2 separate regions of the Homo sapiens genome follow, and region 1 is linked to region 2. A link means that fine-mapping ties the variant in region 2 to the expression of a gene that starts in the linked region. Tissue or cell type: whole blood. Region 2 holds a variant in brackets; the other region holds the start of a gene. All regions are shown on one strand. Distances are between the middles of the regions.

Evidence for each region. PIP is the estimated chance that this variant, and not a neighbour inherited with it, causes the effect.
Region 1: PIKFYVE starts here. The variant in region 2 is fine-mapped to the expression of PIKFYVE in whole blood (GTEx, PIP 0.98).

Annotation. Positions count from the first base shown.
Region 1 is chr2:208,265,055-208,267,735 of GRCh38, reverse strand. PIKFYVE (phosphoinositide kinase, FYVE-type zinc finger containing) reads right to left here and starts at 1,481. Exons shown (of 42, transcript NM_015040.4): 1 at 1,321-1,481. RefSeq lists a silencer at 1,195-1,464 and an enhancer at 1,595-1,644.
Region 2 is chr2:208,177,972-208,180,669 of GRCh38, reverse strand. All of the region lies in intron 6 of C2orf80 (chromosome 2 open reading frame 80), which reads left to right. Among named protein-coding and RNA genes, the nearest start is that of C2orf80, 11 kb to the left of the region's middle. The variant G/T (reference allele first, on the strand shown) is at 1,540.

The sequences.
Region 1 (2,681 bases), 87 kb before region 2:
CAGGAATTCAAAACCAGCTTCGCTAACATGGTGAAACCCCGTCTCCCCTAAAAATACAAAAATTAGCCGAGTGTGGTGTCGCGCGCCTGCAATCTAGCTACTCAGGAGGCTGAGGCAGGAGAATCGCCTGAACCCTGGGAGGCGGAGGTTGCAGTCGGAGGAGATCGCGCCACTGCACTCCAACCTGGGGGACAGAGCGAGACTCTGTCTCTCAAAAAAAAAAAAAAAAAAAACTGGCAATGTAATAATTTAGGAAAGCTGAATATTGGAAATGTTAGCTTCTATCAACAAAGATTTCTTGTTCAATTTTTGACCAACACGCTTAAAGGAAAACCAGAGCAGGATCCAGAAAGCAGAAAAAGGGAGAACACAGGAAATTAGCCTTGCTCCACAGAAGAGATTTAACCTACACAATCTTTGTCACAAACACAAAAGAAAGAACATTTTTTGTAAGAAAACTGACAGAGTGGGAGTTTTGGAGTGCCAAAAAAGGGGCTCAAATAAATCAGAAATAAGTACATTATACCAAGCGACTACCTCTATTGTCAACACTGGACATATTTTACAACACAGGATGCACTGCGTCAATAGTAGATAATGAATCATGTATACACATCAGATACACACGAATAACTTGCTTTATACAGAATTCTAGCACTTCTTATATTTCTTGACTGTCTTAGGAATAACCTCTGATTGGGCAGAAAACCCCTAAGTCCTAAAAGTTTCCAACACATTCCATTCTCATCCTTTTGTTGGGAACATTCTAAGCAAAGGGTAAACACTAATTGGGAAATAATGCTCCTCCTCAAGAAACTCCAAAACCTAAGTTGAAATGGAATCGTCTCAAATAGCAGAGGCAAGCATTTAAAAAGACAAACACTTATTTGAACCCCCACGGTTGGTATCGTTTCTGCAGCTCATGAACTTTCTTTTCCAGCCTACGGATGCGCCTCTGACAAACTCAGAACTCATGCACTCAGAGGGAAAAGTAACTGTACTCTTCCCCTCCTAATTAAGTTCAGGCGTAAGGGTCGAGAGAGAGGCAAAGGAACTTCAAATGTTTCCAAGGAAATCTCAAGGGCCCCACCCGGCTTCCGTCCCCACTCGCCAGACAAGGCAGCCGGGGAATAGGGAGGACAAGCTAATTCTAAAGCCAGATTCTCTGCCCTTCCTTGCTCAGCCGGCAGCCAGGCCCTAGCCCCCGACTGCGGAGCCCTGGTTCTCACTTTCACCTCAGCTCTGGCCCTGGAGCTCCCCATACCGGCCTCCTTCCCATGCTGAGCCCCAGCCGGCCAAGCTCCAGGCCCCCTCCCTTACCTGCGCCTCCTGCCCCGGCCGCGCCGGCTGCCCCCCGCCCCAGCCTCCGCTTCAACGGCTCAGCCCCCGGAAGTCGGCCCCCGAGAGCGGCGGTGGGCTCCTCAGGCCGCGGACGGTTGCGGCAGGAAGCGAAGCTGCTTACATGGTTGATGCGGCTTCTCGCTTCCCCCCCCCAAGACTCCGCCCTCTGTTTTCCTGTCCCCCAGTCCGAAATCTTTCCCGGGGGCCGGCTCCTCCCAGCCCGGCCGACGCTCGGATCAGATGCTCAGGCAGAAGGAGTCCAGCCCAGATCGAGTCGTCCTGATCTTTTGGCCGAGATTAGGCCGCTTCAGCCTTCCTGGAAGAAGCCAGGGGGACTGCGCGCGTGAGCGTCACGCATGCGGGGTCAACGGATGGGTGCTTGGTGCTCTGGGCACTGCAGGGGTGCTGGCTGGACTGCGGTTACCGTATGTGTTCGATACTGTGGGCACTCATAATATGTTATTGCTTTGTTGTAGACAGTTCACTCGTGTAGCACTGAACCGGAGTTAGCGATGACTCTGTTTCCAGACTTGCATGACTCCACCAATAACCAGCCATATGATCTTAAGCAAATTGCTCATTTATTTAGGCCTTAGACCTCTGGTGTGTAAAGTCGGATTAATAAAAGGACTCACTTCTTAATACTTTTTTGAGATTAAGTAAATGCACTTAAAGCGAATGGCACAGTTCCCTGACCCAGAGTAAGTGATGTCGGCTTTATAGTTAATTTTTTCATTTAGGTGTTGTGTTGCAAATGCTGATGCAAATAAAGTTACCAAGCCCAAGCCCTATCTTGTTCAGCTTGGCTAGAGTTATTCGTCATTTCTGTCCTGCTGAGAGCGCAGTGCAGTTAACTGCAGAAAACATGCTCGCCGCAGTTGTGGGGCTTGGTAGGGGAGGATGGAAAGCAGACGAAACCTAAAGGGAAATGCAGTTTTAAATTCTGTGAGTCCTTTTCCTCAAGAGTTTTGTCAAATCCCAGCCCAGTTTTCCTGGAGTTGGAAAGCACCATCGAAACCTGCAGGTTGAGTCCAGTGCAAATCCCAGTCACCATCCTCAGCTGGGCCCTTCAGCAATCTTTCTGGGAGTCTGTAGTCAGCTTCTCCCATTCCTTATTACTGCTGCGTCAGACCACCACCACGACCCCCACATTACCTTGACCATCATTCTCATCAGAGAATCATATTTTATACCCACGTGAAAAATCCCAAGGTATCTGGGCGTGACCCTTAACAAGCTAATTCCCCACACACCACAACATTTACCTACATCCACATCTGCCCTGGTCTGCCTTTCTCCCTCATCTCTCTGAGGAAGGGGCCTCTTCTTCCCCAGCTCAA
Region 2 (2,698 bases):
TATTTTCAGACATCAATTATGAAATAACAGTTTTACATCAAAATGTACAAAACCAGACATAACCATTTCTTACTTGAATAACGTGTGTGAAATGCCTTTCATATGTAAAAGACCATGCAGTAATAACAAATGTATCTTGTGTACGGCTGAGAAGGGGCAGCAATGAGTACCAGGCTTGGGGGCAAAACTTTACTCTGTTGTGGTTTTGTTTTTTTTTTTTGAGACAGAGTCTCACTCTGTCACCCTGGCTGGAGTATAGTGGTGCGATCTCGGCTCACTGCACTTCTGCCTCCTGGGTTCAAGGAATTCTCGTGCGTCAGCCTCCTGAGTAGCTGGGACTACAGGCATGCACCACCACACCCGGCTAATTTTTGTATTTTTTGGTAGAGATGGGGTTTTGCCATGTTGACCAGGCTGGTCTCAAACTCTTGGCCTCAAGTGATCTGCTTGCCTTGGCCTCCTAAAATACTGGAGTACAGGTATGAGCCACCATGCCAACCTCTGCTCTGTTTCTAATAAATGTAATTTTTCACGTACACTTTTTGTAATGTAGATCTGGTAGGTCCACACAGTTCCCTTCTATGATGTACTATATCTTCTAGAACTAGGACAAGATCCACAAGGCTCATTCTCATGACAAATTCCCTAGTTTACTGCTGATACATCTTCCTTTCCCACAACACTACTACATTTTTTAAAGACGGGTCTCACTGCTGGTCTCAAATTCCTGGTAATCCAGTAATCCTCGAAATCCTGGCCTCAGCCTCCTAAGTAGCTGGACTATAGGTGTGAGCTCCACTCTCAGCTCCTCCCATGAAACTACTTTGAAATCATTAACAGTAGAAGCAGCAATGACCTGGGAGTTCAGAGACCTGGGTTTGAGTTCTGACTCCACTACTATGAAACCCTAGATGCGTCCCTTTCCCCTTTCGGGCCTCCATATGACTGATCTTAAAAAAAAAAAAAGGGTGTTCTGAATAATTTTTAAGACCACTTCCATTTTTGCCACTTGTAAATGTATGAACATTAAGTAAACATTTAAATATGAACTGCTATTTAGAGGTGAACTACTGATCCCTTCACCTTTGGATACCTCCAGAAGAGGCAAGAGGAAAGGGAAGGTGAGGTGGCGAGGGCCATGCAGTGGGAGGGGGGAAGGGGGGCACCAACGTCCTCACGCCCAGGTCTTCTGCTCACACTGTGGCTTTCCCTGCCCCCACCTGGATTCAGAAGGGAGGGCAGGGCAGGGGCAAGGCTGTGGCCACAGGAATGCCTGCCTCCCTTATTCTTTTACTGCAGGTCATTGTGCAAGCAGTGGGGTCATGTAGAGTTCAAGAGCCCACCAGGTCCACCTTAGAAGTCAAGTGTTTACATTGAAACCAACTTTCCTATCACTTTAATCCATATGTAACCTGACTGTAGTCCTGAGACTCAAATGCCCTTGATCATTGTGAAAATCAGAACTTTCTCTCTGATCCCTCTAGTTTCAACTCACTTCATTCATTCACTCACTCATTCATTCACTCATCTGTTCATTCA[G/T]TATAATTGTAGGTGCAGGGGATACAGTGGTGAGCAAGTCAGACAAGATAACTTTTTAAAAACTTTTTTGCAGGCCGTTTGCAGTGGTTCATGCCTGTAATCCCAGAACTTTGGGAGGCCAAGGTGGGTGGATCACCTGAGGTCGGGAGTTTGAGACTAGCCTGGCCAACATGGTGAAACCCCAACTCTACTAAAAATACAAAAAATTTGCCAGGTGTGGTGGCGGTCGCCTGTAATCCCAACTACCAGGGAGGCTGAGGCAGGATAATCTCTTGAACCCGGAAGACGGACGTTGCAGTGAGCTGAGATCATGCCACTGCACTCCAGCCTGGACAACAAGAGCAGAAACTCCATCTCAAAAAACAATTAAAAAAAAATTTTAGGGATGGGGGTCTCCCTATGTTCCACAGGCTGGTCTTGAACTCCTGGGCTCAAGCGATCCTCCCACCTTGGCCTCCCCTAATGCTGGGATTACAGGCATGCATCACCACACCCAGCCAAGATTACTTTTCTTATAGATCTTATATCCTATATTGGAGCTTACCTTGTTTGAGATATAAGCCACCCCAGGCCTGACGCTCCTCAGAGATCAAGCTGTTCTTGGTTTTCAAAGAAAGCTCAGCTCTCTGTGTTCCTTGGATAGCCAAGCAAATCATACTGCTTTATTCCTGCTTGTCTTTTTCTGCAGCTTTCTCCCTTCTAGGCTGCCCTTTCTCCTTTTCCCCTACCCCTCAGCACATATACACACAAGCCTGAGCCCCAAACCCTTCTGTTTCAGTCACTGTTTTCTCCCTGTCACCTTCTGGTACCTGGGAGAGGTCTAGAAAGGCATCAGCACATCTGACTAGTTGGTCCCAACTCACATGGCTAAAAGACTAATATGGAAAAACACATCCTAGAGAGGATGGCACTGTGGACCCCTCCAGGTTTGGCTGGGTTATCAGTCAAGAAGGTTTGCAAACATGGGTGTCTGAGTAGCTCAGATAAATCAGGTTCATTTAAAGTTGCTAGAAGGCTGGGCGCGGTAGCTCATGCCTGTAATACCAGCACCTTAGGAGGCAGAGGTGGGTGGATCACCTGAGGTCAGGAGTTTGAGACCAGCCTGGCCAACACGGTGAAATCCTATCTCTACTAAAAACACAAAAAATTAGCGGGGCGT